Homo sapiens: one gene and its partners. The protein of the gene in region 2 interacts with the protein of the main gene of each other region in a pairwise test. Each region holds a gene or a part of one and is shown on either strand. Other genes may lie near its edges.

What was found.
Region 1: the proteins of SLC12A4 (region 2) and TMEM102 interact in binary tests that used the Homo sapiens proteins (3 or more experiments, as listed by UniProt).
Region 3: the proteins of SLC12A4 (region 2) and AP3M1 interact in binary tests that used the Homo sapiens proteins (3 or more experiments, as listed by UniProt).

The regions. Positions count from the first base shown.
Region 1 is NC_000017.11:7,431,125-7,438,205, forward strand, and holds TMEM102 (transmembrane protein 102), read left to right. Parts: upstream 1-4,310; 5' UTR 4,311-4,572; exon of another isoform or gene 4,573-4,728; 5' UTR 4,729-4,747; coding exon 4,748-4,961; intron 4,962-5,069; coding exon 5,070-6,382; 3' UTR 6,383-6,555; downstream 6,556-7,081. Other genes in the region: uncharacterized protein SPEM3, read left to right, coding at 1-1,638.
Region 2 is NC_000016.10:67,958,611-67,965,648, reverse strand, and holds part of SLC12A4 (solute carrier family 12 member 4), read left to right. Parts: intron 1-1,596; exon of another isoform or gene 1,597-1,621; coding exon of another isoform or gene 1,622-1,718; intron 1,719-2,089; coding exon 2,090-2,184; intron 2,185-3,942; coding exon 3,943-4,074; intron 4,075-7,038. UniProt on the Homo sapiens protein: Mediates electroneutral potassium-chloride cotransport when activated by cell swelling. May contribute to cell volume homeostasis in single cells. May be involved in the regulation of basolateral Cl(-) exit in NaCl absorbing epithelia.
Region 3 is NC_000010.11:74,133,803-74,140,840, reverse strand, and holds part of AP3M1 (AP-3 complex subunit mu-1), read left to right. Parts: intron 1-1,909; exon of another isoform or gene 1,910-2,035; intron 2,036-2,458; 5' UTR 2,459-2,461; coding exon 2,462-2,734; intron 2,735-4,037; coding exon 4,038-4,209; intron 4,210-6,676; coding exon 6,677-6,814; intron 6,815-7,038. UniProt on the Homo sapiens protein: Part of the AP-3 complex, an adaptor-related complex which is not clathrin-associated. The complex is associated with the Golgi region as well as more peripheral structures.

The DNA.
Region 1 (7,081 bases), on a different chromosome or scaffold from region 2:
CAACCCCTGATCCAACCCCAATGCCCTGAATGTCATGAGAGTCTAGGCCTTACCCAAGATTCTGGCCTTCAAAGGACCCCAGGCCCTTCAAAAGACTCCAGAGTTCCCAGGAATCTGGACCTTGCCCAAAACCCAGACCTCTACAAGAACCCAGGCCTTACCCAAGATCCAGGCCTCCACGAGAACCCAGGTCTTGCTCCAAATCAAGGCCTACATGAGTTCCCAGGCCTTCCCCAAGATTCTTATCTCTGCCAGAATCCAAGCCCTTCTCAAGACTTTGGTCTTCACAAGAATTCAGGCATTACTCAAGATTCCCACCCCCAAAAGAACACAGGTCTGACTCAAGAAGCTGGTATCCTTAGGAGCCCATGTCTCACCCAATCCCCTGGCCTCCACAAGAAAACACCATTTACCCAAACTTCTGATCTTCAGAGGAGCTCAGGCTTTACACAAGACTCTGGAATCTATAGGAATCTTGAACCAAACCAAGAGACTGTGATCTACAAAAATCAAGATCTCTCCCAAGCAACTGACCACCAAAAGAACCTAGGCTCTTCTAAAGATTCTGGAGGTCACAAGAATACAGGCAATGTCCAAGATCCAGGAGTCTGTAGTACCGCAGGCCTTACTGAAGATTCTGGATCACAGAAGGGTCCGTATGTTCCCCAAGACTCTGAAGTCAATAAGAGCTCAGGAGTTATCCAGGAATCTTTTCTCCACAAGAGCCCAGGCCTTGTCCAAACCTCTGGCCTCCCAAAGTGCTCAGGCCTTACCCAAAACTCAGGAGACTACAAGAATCCAGGACTTATCCAAGATTGTGGTGGCCACAAAGTTAAAGGCCTTACTCAAGATTCCAACCTCCCAAGCCTTACCCAAGCCACTAAAGTTGAAAGAAGATTTAGCCTTCCCCAAGATGTTGGAGTTTACAGGAGCTCAGAACATAGCCAAGACTCTAATCTCCACAAGTGCCCAGGAATTAATCAAGATCCTGGCCCCCATAAAGACCCAGCCCTTGTCCAAGACTCTGGCCTCCCCAAGATTTCAGGCCTTACCCAGGAATCTGGCCCCTACAAGAGCTCATGCCTCATCCCAGATCCCAGCCTCTACAAGAACCCAAGCCCTGCCCTAGGTTCTGATTTTGTCCAGCTTTTGTCCCTGCTTCAGACCCCAAAGTCCACACTGTCCCTGATGAAGTCATCTGTGCCTGAGAAGGCTGCTCAGAAGGAGGACGCACAGCGGCACGTCCTCTGGGCTCGTGTCCAACTCAATGAGAACTCCTGCCCTTCCAAGGCCCAAGTGGTCTCCAATGACCTGCAGACCTTCTCAGAGGTACCTGTATTAATTGAGCTGCAGTCATCCTCCTGGCGGGCAGGCAGCCAGCACGGGGCGTACCGCCCTGTGGATACAGTTCCTTCAGGCTACCAGAACTATCGTCAGATGTCTATGCCTACCCATATCAACTGGAAGTCCCACTGCCCTGGACCAGGCACCCAGGCAGGGCATGTGGTTTTTGATGCCCGTCAGAGACGGTTGGCAGTGGGCAAGGACAAGTGTGAAGCTCTGTCTCCTAGGCGCCTTCATCAAGAGGCACCCAGCAACTCGGGGAAACCATCAAGGAGTGGGGATATCAGAATGTGATGAGAACCTTGGACAAAGAGGGGACAAAAGTGCATCAGGAATAAAGAGGCGAGAGAAATGTTCTGTGTTTGTTTGAGGACATCCACCCCAGCCCATCCCCGATACTGGCCACCCACAAAGCCACTGAGGACAGGTCCCTGTTTCTCCTCCATAGCTGCATAGCTAAGCCCATTATCCTCAAGGCCCTAGAGCTCCTCTGTCCCATACACTAGCCATTAGCCAAATGTGGCTATTAAAATGTATATTAGGCCTGGTGCAGTGGCTTACACCTGTAATCCCAGCACTTTGGGAGGCCGAGGTGGGCGGATCACCTGAGGTCAGGAGTTCGAGACCAGCCTGGCCAACATGGTGAAACCCCGTCTCTATAAAAATACAAAAATTAGCCGGGCATGGTGGTACACGCATGTAATCCCAGCTATTCGGGAGGCTGAGGCAGGGAGAATCACTTGAACCTGGGAGGCGGAAGTTGTGGTGAGCCGAGATCGCACCATTGCACTCCAGCCTCGGTGACACAGCAAGACTCTGTCTCAAAAAAAAAAAAAAAAAAAAAAGTAGATGTTACTGCGGAACACATTTTTAAATTTTGTTTAATTTTAATTTACATTTTCTTTTTTTCTTTTTCTTTTTTTCTTTTTTTTGAGACAGAGTCTCGCTCTGTCACCCAGGCTGGAGTGCAATGGCGCGATCTCGGCTCACTGCAACCTCTGCCTCCCAGGTTCAAGCAAGCGATTCTCCTGCCTCAGCCTCCTGAGTAGCTGGGATTACATGCGTGCACCACCACGCCCAGCTAATTTTTGTCTTTTTAGTAGAGATGGGGTTTCACCATGTTGGCCAGGCTAGTCTCGAACTCCTGACCTCAAGTGATCCACCCGCCTCGGCCTCCCAAAGTGTTGGGATTACAGGCGTGAGCCAGGGCGCCTGGCCACATTATCTACATTTCAAGTGCTCAACAGCCACAGGTGGCTGCTGGTGGCTACTGTATCAGACAGGACCAACTCAGGACATTGCTATCGTCACAGAAAATTATATTGGAGAGCCATGCTTTAGAGTTTAGAGGAACTATTCCTTGTCACCCATTCTTAACATCTTCAAAGCTTCCACAGAGTCCAGAGAACTTAGTTCTTTTTAGAGTGCCTCGGAAGCCACCCTCTGGGAAGGAGGTGAGATGCAGGGATGTCTGATGCCTGGTTACTCCAGACTGTGAGAAACAGCCCAGTCTCCAGTTCTCCTGATCTGGCCTCTTGGGTCACAGCCAGATGTGTGTGTACGGGAACCTACTTGCGCAGTTCTGGGCTGCTTTGGTGCTCTCGCTTCTCCCAGGGACCCCAGCTCTGGTTGCTGAAGGAGAAAACTCTCTGTCAGTGACGAGGAACCCCTGAGTCCTGGGCTTGCCAAATTGATCTCTACAGTTGGGGAGTCTCTTCTTTTACAGGCCTCTAATTTTCCTAGATGTCCTCCTTAATTATCTTATCCATGGACTTAGGCCTATCCCGTCCTGGAGACAGACCAAGGGCAGAAGGAATGTAAGAAGTCGTGGCCCAGGCCGGGTGCAGTGGCGCGTGCCTATAATCCCAACACTTTGGGAGGCCGAGGTGGGAGGATCACCTGAGGTCAGGAGTTCAAGACCAGCCTGGCCAACATGGTGAAACCCTGTCTCTACTAAAAATACAAAAAATTAGCCAGGTATGGTGGCAGGCGCCGTAATCCCAGCTTCTCGGGAGGCTGAGGCAGGAGAACTGCTTGAACCCGGGAGGTGGAGGTTGCAGTGAGCGGAGATTGCGCCACAGCACTCCAGTCTGGGCAACAGTGCGAGACTCAGTCTCAAAAACAAAACAAAACAAAACAAAAATTTGAGATCCCAAAGTGTTTTCCCTGCCACGACTCAGGTAGCAGTGAGCTGAGGTGGGCATCACTAACATGTATGTCTCTCCTATGAGTCAAACGTCCATTTCTGGGTCACCATCTGTGTGCTCCTGCCTAACACTACCACTTTTGGGATTCCAAGATGCACCCCCCCCACCCCACCCAGGCAGGGGTCCCTATCTCTCCCCAGGCCCTAGGGTGGAGTTTCGCTCTTATCACCCAGGCTGGAGTGCAATGGCACAATCTCAGCTCACTGCACCCTTTCCCTCCTAGGTTCAAGTGATTCTCCTGCCTCAGCCTCCTAAGTAGCTGGGATTACAGGCGTCTGCCACCACGCCCGGCTAATTTTTGTATTTTTAGTAGAGACAGGGTTTCGCAATGTTGGCCAGGCTGGCCTTGAACTCCTGACCTCAGGTGATTCACCCGCCTCAGTCTCCCAAAGTGCTGGGGTTACAGGCGGGAGCCACCGCGCCCGGCCCATCCCTCATTATTTTTTGCGACTCAGAGCCATCCTATTACCCCTCTCAAACCCCAAGGAATGTTTGAGTGGGGTTGATATGGGTGTGAAAAGACACAGAATAATCTGTCTCCAGAGGAACTACAACTTCCATCAGGCACTACTTCAGCGGAACAGGAAAGGATGTGGGGGCGTGGCTACCACGCCCTAGTAGAGCGGGAAACTACAACTCCCAGGATAACGCGGGATTTCAGCAGGGCCAAAAGAGTGATTGAGCTCTGACTGGCGACCCGACCCGGCGGAAACCACCTCGACAGCCTCCAGAAAGGGGCGTGGCTGAAAATGTAGGGGCGTGGCCACGTGGGCATCAGGAAGAAGTAACCTGTTGAATCTATTTCTGCTCCCCACCCTTACTGCTTCCCATAAGGGGGAAGCCGCAGACTAATAAGCCTCTTCCAAAAAAGAGGTAAAGGGAGGTAGACAAGGGGCGGCAGCGGAGGCTGGCTACTGCATTCCGTAGGAGGAGCCAACAGTTACTTTTTACCTGCTGAGTCCGGTGAACCAGTTCATGGGGGCGGGGACCTGCCTATGAGAAAAGGGCCAGGATAGAAGAGGTATTTATTTGTTCATTTTGAGGACTAAATTTAGAACCCATCATCTACAGACCCATTTGTAGGTTGTGTCTGGGGCACTCGCTCGGCCTCAGGAAGAGGGAAGAACGGGGACGACTTTGTGGCAGCAAAGCCACCTCCCTTCCGTGTTTTCCGCAGCCCAAAGCGATAGAACCGCATGGCTTCCGCAGTCTGGGGGAGTGCCCCCTGGTGGGGCCCGCCGCCCCCGGCCCCAGCTCGGCCGCTCACGGACATCGACTTCTGCTCCGGGGCGCAGCTGCAGGAATTGACCCAGCTGATCCAGGAGCTGGGTGTGCAGGAGAGCTGGAGTGACGGGCCCAAGCCGGGAGCCGATCTCCTCCGGGCCAAGGACTTTGTCTTCTCTTTGCTTGGTAAGTAACCCTACTTGCCTTTGGGAACTCACAGCTCTCAGCCTCACCACGCCCCCGCCCCCGCCCCGGCTTTGGGCGACGCCCTCACGATCCGTTCCCTTTTTTTAGGTCTAGTTCACCGCCGGGACCCTCGCTTTCCTCCCCAGGCAGAGCTCTTGCTGCTTCGTGGTGGGATTCGCGAGGGCTCCCTGGATCTGGGGCATGCACCCCTGGGTCCCTACGCCCGGGGACCTCACTACGATGCCGGCTTCACACTCCTAGTGCCCATGTTTTCACTGGACGGCACTGAACTGCAACTGGACCTGGAATCCTGTTACGCACAGGTCTGCCTCCCAGAGATGGTGTGCGGAACCCCCATCCGGGAGATGTGGCAGGATTGCTTAGGACCCCCAGTCCCAGGAGCACGTGATTCGATCCACCGAACGGAGAGCGAAGAAAGTTCCAAGGACTGGCAAAGCTCTGTAGACCAGCCGCACAGCTACGTCACTGAGCACGAGGCGCCGGTGTCTTTGGAAAAATCGCCTAGTGACGTTTCAGCGTCCGAGTCGCCTCAGCATGACGTCGTCGACCTTGGCTCTACCGCACCTTTGAAAACAATGAGTAGTGACGTCACCAAGGCAGCCGTCGAAAGCCCAGTCCCAAAGCCGTCGGAGGCTCGGGAAGCGTGGCCCACATTATGTTCCGCCCAGGTGGCTGCCTGGTTCTTTGCTACGCTGGCGGCGGTCGCCGAGTCTCTGATCCCTGTCCCGGGTGCTCCGCGTCTGGTGCACGCAGCTCGCCACGCGGGTTTCACCACCGTCCTCCTGGCTACCCCTGAGCCCCCTCGCCGCCTCCTGCTCTTCGACCTGATCCCAGTGGTGTCCGTGGCGGGCTGGCCCGAGGGGGCTCGGAGCCACTCGTGGGCCGGTCCGCTGGCCTCTGAGTCGGCTTCCTTCTACCTGGTGCCCGGTGGCGGCACCGAGCGGCCGTGCGCCTCCGCCTGGCAGCTCTGTTTTGCCCGCCAGGAGCTGGCGCTCAAAGCGCGCATACCAGCGCCGCTGCTGCAGGCGCACGCGGCGGCCCAGGCGCTACTGCGCCCGCTGGTGGCCGGGACCCGGGCGGCGGCGCCCTACCTCCTGCGGACGCTGCTGTACTGGGCGTGCGAGCGGCTGCCTGCGCTCTACCTGGCGCGGCCAGAAAATGCGGGCGCCTGCTGCCTCGGGCTGCTAGACGAGCTCGGCCGAGTGCTCGAGGCCGGGACGTTGCCTCACTATTTTCTGAACGGCCGACAGCTCCGTACGGGGGACGACTCCGCTGCGCTGCTCGGAGAATTGGCCCGGCTCCGCGGGGACCCGGCCCGGGCCCTCCGTGCCGCGGTGGAGGAGGCCAAAGTGGCCCGCAAGGGGGGCGGTTTGGCGGGCGTGGGGGGCGGGGCCCATTAAAGACGCTGTTCCTACCAGTGGAAAGTGCCTCTGTGGGCGAGCGGGACGTGGGGGGCCCTGCTCGCCCCTCGCCAGGGGGACTGACTGTGTGCCCTGGGCCTGAAGCCCCCCTTCTGGAAGACCTCCCTGTTGGTTCCTCCTCTACGCCCACCCGCCTGCCCCCGCACAAGTTGCCCCATTCCAGCCTCGCTATTCTCCACATCTGTGGCCAGCACTCCGCCCAGGGGCAGCTTCCAGAAACCGTCTGTCCCCAGTTCTTTTGGTCATTTCTCTTAAGGGCCAATAGAAATGGGAGAAACATATTTGCTGACCAAACGCGAAAAGGAGTTATGGAGACCAGGGTCTGATCAATTTGGCTCACACAACGGCAGAGATATGAAGGAGGCCGGATTTCGCCCAAGGCTGGATCTCACCACCCCCCATCCTCCATCTCTCCAGTTCTTCCCCCACTTTACTCGTGCGGTTCTTTCTTCACTAACATCCCGGCCAGTAGGGTCTCTCTCCCTTCTCCCAGCGTCCGCCATTCCATCTCCCTTAGGCCCAACCTCTCCTTCCTACCCAGGGGTGCGTTCAGGAGGCCTTCCTGTCCCTCCTCCTCTGAAGGCTGAGACGTGCGGCCTTGCCTCGGCTTTGCCTGCTTGTAAGACACAGTCCGCACTCTCTACCTCCAAGGAACCCCGGGGTTCCTCCTGCCCGGCT
Region 2 (7,038 bases):
CTACCCAGAAAGACCAGGCAACAGTGATGGGGCAGGCTGTAGTACATGAGTTTAGAATAAATTATAATTGATTTCCAGCCTACTTCCACAAAAGAATCAGAAGAAATAGCCAACAAAAGTGTCTCCCCAAGTGATTGTTACTCTCAGGAAGATTGAAAACCATGCAGAGGAAGGGGGCAAGCACTCAGGTGAGACAGATGGTGACTTTATCTAAAGAGTAAATTTAGCTTGGAGATTCCTGGCAGCCAAAGCAGAAAGAGAAGTAAGACGAGCTGTATAACTGGCATTTTCTGACAAAATGAAGCACCTGATTTATCAAAGGGAGACACTTTTTTTGTCACAAAAATCCAAAAGTAATTTTCAAAGGCTTTTCACTGAAGAGCCATTAATGTCATTAATGTAAGAGGCAGAGTGTTACTGGGTTTTCAGATTTTTCTTGGGACTCCTTCTGATCCTGAACAAGCATGGAGGGTACAGCAGATATCATAGAGTGTCCGACATGACCCCGCCTGGCTTTAACATGACACGGTGGACTGTCTTGACCTCTGGCTGCCTTTGTCCACTGTGCCATTGGCATTGACCTATGTGAATGTGGGGCTGAGCTGCTTGGCTCACTTAGCTAGTCCAGGTTGCTGGGTGTAGCAGGTGTGCCACTTTCACATGCTGTGGGAAGGAAGAACTGACTTTGCCCCAGAAACTGTCATGGGCACACTTGATTTGTTAGTTTCCTTGGGGGATAAAGAATCCACAGCACAGCACCTGCTGAGTGGTTGTTGGCTCAGAGAAAGCAATTGAAGCCTCATGCTGATAGCAAGAGATGTATCAGATACAGGAGGATGCCTCAATCAGCATTCTCAGCTGCAGTCAAGAAAAATGAATTGTGGCCTATGTAAACAGAAAAGGTTGGCGGGCATGGCCAGTGCATGGCCCAATCACACCACTAGCCTGGGCTGGTGGTGACAGTTCTGTTGCCATCTCCATCACTGGACACCATGCCAGTCCTTCTCATGTCAGAACTACATACTGCTGCCATCCAACACCAAGATGTGTGCTTTCCATTTGCTGTGAGGCCTTGAGCCAGGGCCGGGGCTGCGAGGGTAGCTGGGGTGGAGGGAACACTCAGCACCTAGAAAACGAGTGCTTGGCGTTCTGCTTGGTGGGAAGCTGGGAATGGCACCCACCGAGACTCATAAGGGACAAGAGTTGGAAAACAGGGAAGAATGAATGATAGGAGGCCAGAAAAAACAGTCGAGCTTTGGGAGTTGAGGCAGGCTTATTGAAAAGGAGCATTTCACTCCTTTTGGCGAGATTTCTCAGAGCTGGGGCACTGGCTCATCAGCCTAGGGCTGTAGGCGGAGGTTTGCCTGGGGCAAGCGGCGGGATCTGCGGGCAAGGGGGCCATTGTGTTGCTCCTGCCAGCAGTCCCAGCTCCCATTTTTCTCCCTGCTCAGTCCGACACCCACCCGTCCGACTTTCTTAGGCAACCCTAGAAGGCTCCTGGAATCCACTTCCGCTCTCCACGGCCTGGGGCTTGCCCCACCTCCCGGCATGCCCCGGGCTGCCCTGCAGGACGCCCCCCGCGCAGTGCATGGTGGGGTAGCCAGCCGGCCACCTTTGGGCCATGGCAGCCGAAGGTGCTGTGTGCGGCTTCGTCTATCTGGAGGGCACTGCCTGGGCGGTCCCTGAGGACACCGAACCCTTGGCATCCTGCACATTGGGTACTCCGGAAAGACCGGGAAAGGGACTGGGGCGTGGAGGCGATCTGGGGGCGGGTCAAACGCTGGCCCCGCCCCTCTGCAGGCCCCGTCCCTCAGTGTCCATACGTGCTTGTGCTAGGGCGCCTGCGCCCTCACCTGGATTCCCTTCACTGGAGGGAATGATGTCCCAGGTTTTGGTCACTGGCCTCTCTCTGGCTATCCCTGGGCCTTCAAGAGCATTGGCACGGTGCCATGTGAAAACTGAGTTGCAACCTGGTGACACTGCAGCTCCAAAGTGCTCCACAGAAATGATTTGGGGACTGGCTTTCTGGGAAGGGGCCCAGGCTGGGGGGCTCAGGAAGCAGGCCCTGATTGTCCCTCTCTCTTCACAGGACATGGCAACCACAGAGAGAGCAGCCCTTTTCTTTCCCCCTTGGAGGCTTCCAGAGGAATTGACTACTATGACAGGAACCTGGCACTGTTTGAGGTAGCTGAGGAGCCATTTTGGGCCACAGGTTTGGCACACAGAGGCTTTAGCTAAGCAGGCAGGCTGGACACGTGGGCCTCCTCTGTCTTGCTCTTCCTCTCATCTCCTCTTGTGTTCCTGGTTCTCATGGCAGCCGGGCTGCAGTTCCCTTGGCCCTTTCAACTGAAACTGCCTTTCCAGAGGCCACTCACAATCCCACCCCCATTGCTACCTCCAGGGTGGTTCACCTCTGACTTCCTTACAACCCCTCAGCAAGGAAACGCCCGCTTAGGATTTCCCAACTCAGGATTTCTCCTCTTCCTTCCACTCCTGGTTCTTCTCCAAGTCCATGGTTCTTCGCTCTCCCATGGATTCTTCCTTGTCTTTCTTGGTTGACCCTTCCAGCTCTGTCCCTCTCTAGTTCCCTGAGTCCTGGTCCATTTGCAGCTTTAGGGGATACGTCTCTGGAAAGATTCCCAAATATCTGCCTCTGTACTTGAGTTTTATCTTCTTCAGACTCAAGCTGAGCAGTGAGATCTGGATTTAAGACGTAGTTTAAGCTCCTAAACTCTGACCCATGCATTCAGCCACTGCATGGCTGAGTAATGGAGACTCCTTAATCTGCCTTTTTTTTCTCTTTCTTCATTTTGAGATGGAGTCTCACTCTGTCGCCCCAGGCTGGAGTGCAGTGACGCGATCTCAGCTCATTGCAACCTCTGCCTTCCAAGCTCAGCGATTCTCCTGCCTCAGCCTCCCGAGTAGCTGGGATTACAGGTGCCCACCACATGCCTGGCTAATTTTTGTGTTTTTAGAGACGGGGTTTCACCGTGTTGGCCAGGCTGGTCTTGAACTCCTGACTTCTAGTGATCCTCCTGCTCAGCCTCTCAAAGTGCTGGAATTACTGCTGTGAGCCACCACATCTGGCCGAGGCTCCTTAATCTCCACATGCCCCCAAGGGCCCTCGTCTTCCTTTCTCACACCAAAGCAACTTCTCCCTGTGTGTAGGTCAGAAAGGAGCTGACAGAGAGGGAAAAGCTAAATGTGGGCAGGAGGCAGGTAGAAGCACAGCCTCGAGAAGGCTGCAGGAGCAGGGATCATCGCCTAGACCCCGGTGGGGCTGGGGGACCTGAGCTCTGGGAGGCCTCCTGACCTGGGAAAGCAGCAAGGTTCTGCGGTGAAGGCCTTGGCCCAGCCCCGCCTGAGGATGGGCTGGAGGATCAGGATCCCATCTCCGCGATTGATGTGGGTACTTGCAGGACTGGGGTCAGGGGAAGACCATCCAGGGAGATCAGGGTTTGGGCAGACAAGGGAGACTTCACTTGTCCCAGACATCACTCTTTTGCCCTCTTTGGTTCCCTGAGGTGACTAGAGTGGCTTTTTTGTGGGGAGGGTAGGCGTGAGTCCTAGAGGTGCAGCCATAGCCAGGAGGTGGCTGGGCAGAGCAGGCAGGATGAAGTATGCCATTGCCCCCCTGCCAGCCGTGTTCTTCCCTGCCCTCTCTCCCCTGAGGCAGGTGGTTTTCACAAATGGGCTGGCAGTGATTGTAGCCAAGGCGGGGTAGAGAGAAGCAGCCGCGGGGCTGGGCCTTTGAGTGCCACGTGCTGGGGTGTGGTGTGCACACCTGTCCAGTTGGATGGCTTGGACTTCCCCAGGTAGGAACTGGGATCAGGCCCAGGCCTGTCTCAGGGCTTGGAACAGGGCCAGGGACCAGGCAGCTGGCTCCACACAGCTGGCACCCACCTGGCCCAATGCCATCTTGCCCTGTGGCTCTGTTTGCAGGAAGAGCTGGACATCCGCCCAAAGGTATCGTCTCTTCTGGGAAAGCTCGTCAGCTACACCAACCTCACCCAGGGCGCCAAAGAGCATGAGGAGGCCGAGAGTGGGGAGGGCACCCGCCGGAGGGCAGCCGAGGTGAGCTGGTTGGGGCGGCAGAGGGGCCACACCTGGGAAGACAGACACAGCACCATGGAATTGACTGTTTCCCCACATGGTGGTGAGCACACTGGGGGAAGTGGGTGCCAAGCATAGTGAGCAGGGAGGATGGGCACTGAATGCCTTGTCTCAGGAGGCTTTAAGAAGTGACCTAATGAGAATCCCCCCGGGGGGCAGAGGGCCAGGGAGCCCCTCAGGAATGACAGCAGGAGACACAGCTGCCTGTACTCAGCCTTTACTGTGTGCGAGGTACCACACCAGGCCTGGGTTCTCATATGTCATCTGTACAACAAAACCAAGAGGCAGGTGCTTACTATCATCCCCATTTTTCAGACAAGGAAATAGTGTCAGGGACATTAAGGAACTTGTCTAAGGTGACTGAGCTAGACAAGATCAATGTGTAATGCTGGGAGATGGATTCGTAGATTTTATGGGAGACAGATTTGTGGGATATGTAACTATGCAAAATGCCAGATCAGTGACATTGTGTGAGGCTGGCTAAGAGTGTTGCCCTTGGAGCCAGGAACCAGGTTGTCTCTCGGAGGTCATGCAATCCAGAGCAAGTCACAAACCCTCCTGCTGCTCGCAGTGTTGGCCCAAGGCTCTATTGGCAGAAGCCTCCAACAACCCCCTGGGTTCCTTGAGTGCCAGTGTCAGGGGACATGTGTATGTGATCGGAGCCTGATGCTGCCTTGTGGGGCTTTCCTGTCCCACTTTTTGGTCACTAATCCAGTTCTCTGGCCCTTCAGCCCTCTTCTCTTTGGGGTGACTGTTACCTCTTTGCCTAGCTCCTCTGTGTCATTGCGGCTCAGTGTAGCTGAGGGCTGGGGATTTTTCTACATTTTTCATTTGGAGGCTAGGGACCCTCCCTCTCCACACACTGACTCCCTGAGGTTTGGGAAGCAGTGGTGTTTTAAGAGGAGCTGACGTCTGGCACTGGCTGTAGTATTCTCAGAGGTCGGCACAAGCAGAAGGCGCTCCTGGCTGGGATAAGCCAGGCCTGCAGCCTCACACCTGGTCGTGAGATTTGGGCCTTTCTGGGGTGGGGCCAGCAGAGAAGGTAGACCCCACTGAAGCGCGTCTCTCACCTTGCCCTTCAGGGAGGCAAACCAGCCCACACTTCAGAGAGGGCAGCTGATACCTTGAGGTCGCACAGACCTGACCCTGACCCTGTGCAGCCAGGTGTGACTAGATAGCAGAGAACCCTAACTGCGTCTGGCCATGTCTGTCCAGCACTGCAGGGGTGTCTCAACCTCTGAGAGTGCTCTGCCCACAGTGGGTGACAGGATCCTTAGGTCAGAGCCTCATCCTTGTCCCTTCAGGCCAAGCCAGGGAGCTGGTGGCGGGGAGTGAAGAGGCCCCTGAGAACGGCTAGTGCACATCTCAGCAGGAATGTGGGAGGGATGCCTGGGCCAGAGAGAGCCCATCATCCCTTGGCCCAATGGGGAACCCGTGAGGATGCTTAGCTTAGCTATCCAGCTTACCTGGCCACAGGGTAAGGATGGGAGAGGGTGACTGGGTGTCTTAGCTGCAGTAGTTTTTTCATGGAAGAAGGAGGAGCTGGGTCAAGTCTTTAAGGAGTCAGTAGGAAGTTAGGGATCTGGGGCTGCTGAGCTGTGGTCCTCACCCAGGGCAGGCCCGAGCAGGGGCCTCGGAAAAGGAAGGCTTGAAGCAGGAAGGGTGGGCCTCCGACCAGACCATGCCAAGACCCAAAGCAGCCTCTCCCCAGCAGCTGCTCCAGCTCCAGCACCGGCTTGATGACCTTCTGAGGCTGCCAGAGGTTATTTGGGGATGCAGAAAGCATTTCCGGCCCACCCTGCCCTTTCCCACACTGTCCTTTTCTTAGAGTGACTCAGCCTGGGATGGGGGTGGGACTGGGAGCTCTTGCTGTCGCTATTCTGTGGGTGGCATCCTCTGAGAAGGGCTCAGACAAAGCCCAGATGAGGGGGATCCGTCCCCTGCACTGCTCCACGCAGGACAGGTTGAGGAGCCATTTGTTTTTGCTGAGGCTCTTCTGAAGTCCTTTAGGTCGCTCACAGGTCTTGCCCCAGGCCAGGACCCTTCAGGAGGGGCATTAAGGAACTTGTCTAAGGTGACTCAGCTAGACAAGATCATGGCCATGGAGTTCTCTTCTCCCTAGCTTCAGGGCAGCACGGGCACTGTCTCGTGGGTCTTCCCTGTCCCCTCTCCCCGTATGATTTTCACTAATCTAGTCCTTTGGATCAGTGAGGAGGCTTTGCTGGGGCTCCAGTGGAAGCTGTCAGGGCCACACTTCGGAGGCTGCACTCTTGGGGGCTCAGTGCCTCAAAAAGATGTCAGCCAGCCTCTGTGCTCTCAGCCTCTGCCCTGGCCTCCTGGCTGGCCCCTACTCTGCCCTGAGTTGAGAAAGCCTGCCTGGATTTGCGTATTAGATCTTCCTCACCTGCCCTACAGCCTGAGCACTTTCTCTGTAGGATTTTCCCAACAGGATGTCCCAGGGGCTTCCAAAGCACCACTCACTGGGTTCAGAAGCACCTTTTGGGTACCTGCAGGGCCTGCTGGTGATAGAACCATAAACAAGCCAAGCCTGCCCTAATATAGTAACAAAATATACAAGCACATTCTGTTACCATGACCTGTAGTGACCACTGTGATAGGGAGTATCAGATGCCAAAGGAATGTGAGAGGGAGAACCAACTCCACCTGAGGCAACCTTCGGACATCTTCCCGAGAGAGGTAACAGTTTCACTGAAGAGTTTGCCAGGCCGTGAGGCAGGGCCGACTCTCCCAGGCAGAGTCCAGCACATTCTCAGGTTCGCAGAATCTGAGGGACCCATGTGGTCAGGGGCTGGAGCTAATAAGAGAGGTGATGGGACACATCTGGTGGCCCAAGCCAAGGAGTTGGACGGCACACTGGATTACAAGACAACAGAGGGTTTTCAGCATGGGTGATGAGATTAGACT
Region 3 (7,038 bases), on a different chromosome or scaffold from region 2:
GTATGTGGAAATCCAGTTGTTCCAGTACCATTTGTTGAAAAGGTTGTTCTCTCTCCAACTGGTCACCCAGGTCTTGGCACCCTTGTTGAAAATCAGTTGACCATAAATGTAAGGGTTAATGTTCTATTGATCTGTAGGTCTGTCCTTGTGCCAATACCACATAGTAGTTTTGTAGTAAGTTTTGAAATCAGGAAGCACGAGTTATCCATCTTCGTTGTTCCTTTTTTTTTTTAATTCAAATATATATATTTTTTCAATCTTTTTAATTCTACATATTTTTGTAAGCATCCCCCCAATTCTTGTTTCATAGTAAATCAGACTGTAGATGAAGCATTTCAGACCTTTTGTCAATCATGTCAAGTGTGAGGGGAAGTCTTTTGTAAGTCAGCCAAGTATTTCAAAATGAAAAGCTTTTCCAAAAGTAAAGGCAGAAGACCCCGCTTTGAAGGCGCTGGTCGGCACAGAAGGGCTTGCAAAGGTATGTAGGGAAGTCCACCGGTTACAGGTGTAAGGTGAGTTTAACCTACGGCGACCAGCTGGCCAGGAGCGCCCCAAGGCAGACGAGGACGTGGGGCTTGGGCGCACGGCCGCCTGCAGCCATCTCGCCCCAGATCCTGGCTCAGGAAACGCAGGCTCGGGCTGGGGTGGATGTGTGCGCCCCAGGGCCCTGGCACCCGGGGGACCGAGGGCTCCTCCCAGGTCCTTGGAACAGCAGAGTGGCTCCCAGGAAGGATGCTCAGCTGCAGGTGGGGGTCCCTGCTCCCAAGCACCCTGGCCAGGGAGGAATGGCGCACCCCACCCCGTTCGCCCCTGTTGTTCCTTTTCAAGATTGTTTTGGCTGTTGATCTTTTTCAATTCCTTATGAATTTAGGATTAGCCTGTCAAATTCCACGAAAAGGCAGCTGGGATTTTTTTTTTTTTTTTTTTGAGATGGAGTCTCAATCTGTCACCCAGGCTGGAGTACAGTGGTGCAATCTTGAGTCTCGGCTCACTGCAACCTCCGCCTCCCGGGTTCAAGCGATTCTTCTGCCTCAGCCTCCTGAGTAGCTGGGACTACAGGTGCGTGCCACCACGCCTGGCTAATTTTAGTAGGGACGGGGTTTCACCGTCTTAGCCAGGATGGTCTCGATCTCCTGACCTCGTGATCCACCCACCTCGGCCTCCCAAAGTGTTGGGATTACAGGCGTGAGCCACCGCGCCTGGCCTTTTTTTTTTTTTTTTAGTAGAGACAGAGTTTCTGCACGTTGGCCAGGCTGGTCTTGAACTCCCGACCTCAGGTGATCCACCTGCCTCGGCCTCCCCAAGTGCTGGGATTATAGGCATGAGCCACCACGCCCGGCCTGAAATTGTTTTATTTCATTTTCAGTTTTGTTTTGTTTTTTTTTTTTTAATAGAGATGAGGTCTCACTATGTTGCATAGGCTGGTCTTAAACTCCTGAGCTCAAGCAATCCTCCTTCCTCAGCCTCCCACAGTGCTGGGTTTATAGGCATGAGTTACAATGCCTAGCCCATTTTTAGTATTTTATAGCTATAGTGGATAGAAATATAATTGATTTTTATATTGACTTGTGTCCTGCAAGCTTGCTGAACTAAATTTATTAGCTCTAATAGGTTTTTTTTTGTGTGTGTGTGGATTCCTTAGGATTTTCTATATATAAGATTGTATCTTCTACAGATACAGTTTTACTTCTTCCTTTCCAATTTGGAAGCCTTTTGTTTTATTTTCTTGCTTAATTGCCCTGGTTCAAACCTCTAGTACCATGTTGAATAGAAATGATGGGACTGGGCATCCTTGTTAGGTTTTGTTATTAAGGAGAAAGTGTTCGGTCTTTCACCTTTAAATATAATATTAGCTGTGGGGTTTTCATCAGGTTAAGGAAATTTTTTTTTTTTTTTTTTTTTTTTTTAGATAGTGTCTCACTTGGTCACCCAGGCTGGAGTGCAGTGGCGCAATCTTAGCTCTCTACAGCGTCGATCTTCCTCCTGGGCTCAAGCAATTCTCCTGCTTCATCCTCCTGAGTACCTAGGACTACAGGCAAGTGCCACCATGCTTGGCTAATTTTTGTATTTTTTGTAAAGATGATGTTTTGCCCTGTTGCCCAGGCTGGTCTCAAACTCCTGAGCTCAAGCAATCCGCCCACCTCAGCCTCCCAAAGTGCTGAGATTACAGGCATGTGCCACTGAGCCTGGCTGAGGAAGTTTCTTTTTGTTCTTAAATGGCTTTCTTTTTTTTTTTTTTTTTTCGTAAAAGGATGTTGGATTTTGTCAAATGCAATTTCTGCACCTTTTGAAATGATTGTTTTAGTTCTTATTGTATATCATGTTGATTGATTTTTGTATGTTGAACCAGCCTTGCATTCTTAGAATAAATCCCACTTGGTCAAGGTGTATAATCTTTTTGTGTATGTTAAATGATATTTAATGTATAATAAATTTAAACCTTTCTTTGCCCCAACAGAAAATGATCCACAGTCTATTTCTCATAAACTGTTCCGGTGACATATTTCTAGAGAAGCACTGGAAGAGCGTTGTGAGCCAGTCTGTCTGTGATTATTTCTTTGAAGCTCAAGAGAAAGCTGCTGATGTTGAAAATGTACCACCTGTCATTTCAACACCTCACCACTACCTCATCAGTATCTACCGGGATAAGCTCTTCTTTGTATCTGTCATACAGACCGAAGTGCCACCTCTCTTTGTAATTGAGTTCCTACATCGAGTTGCTGACACTTTTCAGGTTGGTTATCTATCATACCTTTCTAAGTTAAATGACCCAAGTTAGCTGAAGGTGAGACATGATTATATTATTTAATTACCCAGGTTTTGATGTTTACTGTCTGTCTCTCTCTGTTTAAGCGTAAATTCATAAGCCCTTTTCTGTGTGGTATACAGTTACACACATGGCTGCTCTATTCACTATTTTTTATATGTATTACAGATTACAGTTGGCTCTCCATATACATGGGTTCTGCATCCATAAAGTCACCCAACCTTACATGGCAAATATTTGAACAAAAAAATCGAACTGAACATGTACAAACTTCTTCTCATTATTACTTGAACAATACAGTATAACAAATAGTTACATAGCATTTACACTGTGTTAGATATTACAAGTAATCTAGAGGTGATTTAAAGTATATAGGAGGATGTGTATAAGTTATGTGCAAATACTATGCCATTTTATGTCAGCGACTTGAGAATTGTGAACTTTGGTATCTACAGGGGATCCTGGAACTAATTCCCACAAATACCAAGGGATGACTGTATATCATCAGGAAACAATAATGCCCTCCGCATACAGTTCTCTCAATGGTCTCAAGATTTTCATTGGTTATGAACTCTTCTATATTTACATTTTATTATTTTGTCTTGCGGAATATACCAAATAATTTAAGCTTATCTATATGTATTTTGGGATAATCAGGGTGAATGAAGTTTATAGCTCAAATTCCAATTTAATGTTTCAATACTTTCTGGTATAATATGTAATAGGAATTAAATTCAACCTAGAAATATCAAGAAAATATTGAGGAATAATATTAGGACTATAGAGGGGTTTTTTTTGTTTGCTTGTTTTGTTTTGTTTTGTTTTGTTTTGTTTGAGACGGAGTCTCACTCTGTTCCCTAGGCTGGAGTGCAGTAGCATGATCTTGGCTCACCGCAACCTCCGCCTCCCGGGTTCAAGCAATCCTCCCGCCTCAGCCTCCCAAGTAGCTGGGACCACAGGTGTGCACCATCACACTCAGCTAATTTTTGTATTTTTAGTAGAGACAGGGTTTCACCATGTTGGCCAGGCTGGTCTTGAATTCCTGACCTCAAGTGATGCATCCGCCTCAGCCTCCCAAATTGCTGGGATTACAGGCATGGGCCACCATGCCCGGACTATAGAGGGTTTTTTCCCCCGCTCTGTTTTATATATGTTCAGCAGCTTAAGCAATGAATTATGCTACTCTAAGTTTATTCTTCAGAACAAAAAGTATTTAGCAGGCCTTTCTTTTTGCCTTCCATTGTGTGATATTTTGTGTGTATTTTGTCAGGACTACTTTGGTGAGTGTTCAGAGGCTGCAATTAAGGATAATGTGGTCATAGTATATGAACTCTTAGAAGAAATGTTAGACAATGGATTTCCACTGGCTACCGAATCTAACATTTTGAAAGAATTGATTAAACCACCAACAATTCTACGCTCTGTTGTCAACTCTATTACAGGTAAGATGAAAACATACTGTGCTAGTAACTGAGCAATTAAAACTTTGTAAACAACTCATTATTGCTCATGATCTGACATATTATTAAGGTAGTACAATTTGGCCATAATTAAAGTTACTGGTAAAGTTAAAATGGATGTACTATATATTTATTTTCATGGAAAGAGGCTAGACCTTAAGTGATAAAGAACTTTTGGTTATTACTCTTTTTTTTTTTCTAAAACACCACAACAATATTATTACCATTATTTAACACTAAATACTAAGACTGAATAAATTGTTCCAGTTATTCCTAAAGAAGCCAGTATATGAGCCCACTTAGAAGAGAATTTAGTCCATTTATAGACTGGCATTTTAATATTTAAAATAGCATTACATAACTGGTATGCTGCTACTCCACAATTACTAGAGAATAGAAAATTTAAGACGCTTAACCACACAGTACTACAATCTCCTCCAAGTCTTTGTTTTTATGCATTCAGAAGATGTATTAAGAAAAAATAGGAAATAGTTTACTTATGAGATCTCATGCATTGTGGGCCTGTACTTGTGTTGTAAGCTTCCAGCTGGGTTTAATTCTTGAGTGTAGCTAGAAATTAGGCACATCCAGATACCAATATTCTTTCGAAAGCATTAAAGTCTTTTAGACAAAGATTCCTATGAAATGTTATATGCCACTCCAACTCCACTGTCAACCATTGTAAACCCCTGTCCAGTGCCTTGACCTAAAAATGAGGTGAGAGAGGCCTATAAGAAAAAGATCATTCAGCAGCTCTTTATTCATCCTTTGTGTAAGGACGAATGTTAGGAGAAATTCAAAGAAAGATAAGATGGTGTGTCTGTACTCCTAAAACTTATACTCTGAATGGGACATTGGAAAAAAAATTAAGTAAATAACTGTATAAGACTTTAAAAAGCAATTCCATACTTCACAGATAAAGTAATAGCATTGGAAAATAAATACACATGATGTAACGTTAAATTGAAAAGTCAGCACAAAACTGAAAAAAATTATTCTTATATATAAATATTCACTCCGACAAAAAAGTATTTACAATGATTATACCCAGCTAAATACAGATTATATTTATTTTTGCTTTATACTTTCTAATTTTCCAAAATAAACATGTATTTTATAGTCAGAGAAAAGTTACTAAAATATATAATGCAAAACATAACAGATTCATTAGATAGTGTATTACAAAGTTCAAGAGAATGGTTCCATTAATGAAGTAATCCCTCCTGAACTGTGGTGGGTGGCCACCTTGGAAAATCAGTAGAATTCAGGAAGTGAGGAAGGAATAAGAGCATTCTCCATGGTGGAACTGTATGAGAAAAAAACACACATGAAAGAGAAAAACCTAAAGTTTTATTAATCCCTTTAGCAGAAGCAGAACTGTTTTTCACTTGAGAAGTTAGAGATCAAATTAAAAAGTAGAGAAAGTCCTTCAAAGCTAGGATAAATATTTAGCTTTTATCATAAAGCCAGTGAGCAAACATTGAACGTTTTTGAGCAGGAAGATAACATGATTATAGGTTGCAGGTAGGAACACCAATCATAAGTAGACTGCAAAATTGTAGATACAGTATGATTGCGACTATATTTTAAAGTGCAATTAAAAACCAAAATTATCAAAATAGAAAAAAATGCAACCTTCTGGTGGTGGAAATATTCAAAGAAATATACCAAAATGTTAATATTATATTAAAATGTTAATACCATAATATTAACAAAAATGTTAATGGTAGATATATTTTGTTAGTAAGAAGACAGGTGTTTTTCTTTAAACCACTTCTCTGAACTCTACCTTTTTGTTGTTGTTAAGTATGTAGTACTTTCGAATGGGAAATATAAATTAACCAAAATATTAAGTAAGTCACAGCTCAAAGATATGTGTTTTGGACAACCAGACTTATTTTTAGGCATGTGTCAGTTTACCAGGAAATGAGCTGGATACTGAATACTAGCTATATTGCAGCCGTATGGGTATGCTGACCTTAAAATAGGAAAAGGCCAGATTCCATTTACTCCACTGAGGCGTGCTTGGCAGCATCTCATGTAAAATAAAGTTGAATACTGAAGGGCCTAGTTATAACTCTGTATTCTCACTGGAGACATTTTATTGGCAGAAGGTTTTGAAACAACCAACCTCTTTTTTCATCAGTGGCAGAGATTCTGTTGTTGAGCCACTGGAATTAGATTAGATTACTGTTAACACACAGGAGGCAAAAGATAAGTAAATAAATTTAACCTGGTTTGGCAGGTAGACAGAGGGCCACATGGCCTATATTTCTTTTCTAGAAATTTGATCATGTTGGTATGGATATGTCTGACAATTCTAGTGACCATCCACAACTTCATTAAGAAAAATCCAAACATTGAAGAAGCAGCTTTTTTTTTCCTAGTAATAAATTTTCTCATGACTGTTTTATACATCAGCTTTGCCTTCTCCTTTTTTGGTTTCTAGGCAGTAGTAATGTTGGGGACACACTCCCCACCGGGCAGCTGTCCAACATACCATGGCGTCGGGCAGGGGTAAAGTACACAAACAATGAAGCCTATTTTGATGTTGTTGAAGAAATAGACGCAATTATAGATAAATCAGGTAATTGTGTGCATGTCATCTTATTTGGGGAAAAACAATTCATCTGACACAGATGAATAGAAAACTGAAGTCCTGGCCGGGCGCGGTGGCTCACGCCTGTAATCCCAGCCCTTTGGGAGGCCAAGGCAGGCGGAACATGAGGTCAGAGTTCGAGACCAGCCTGGCCAACATGGTGAAACTCTGTCTCTACTAAAGATACAAAAAATTAGCCGGGCATGGTGGCG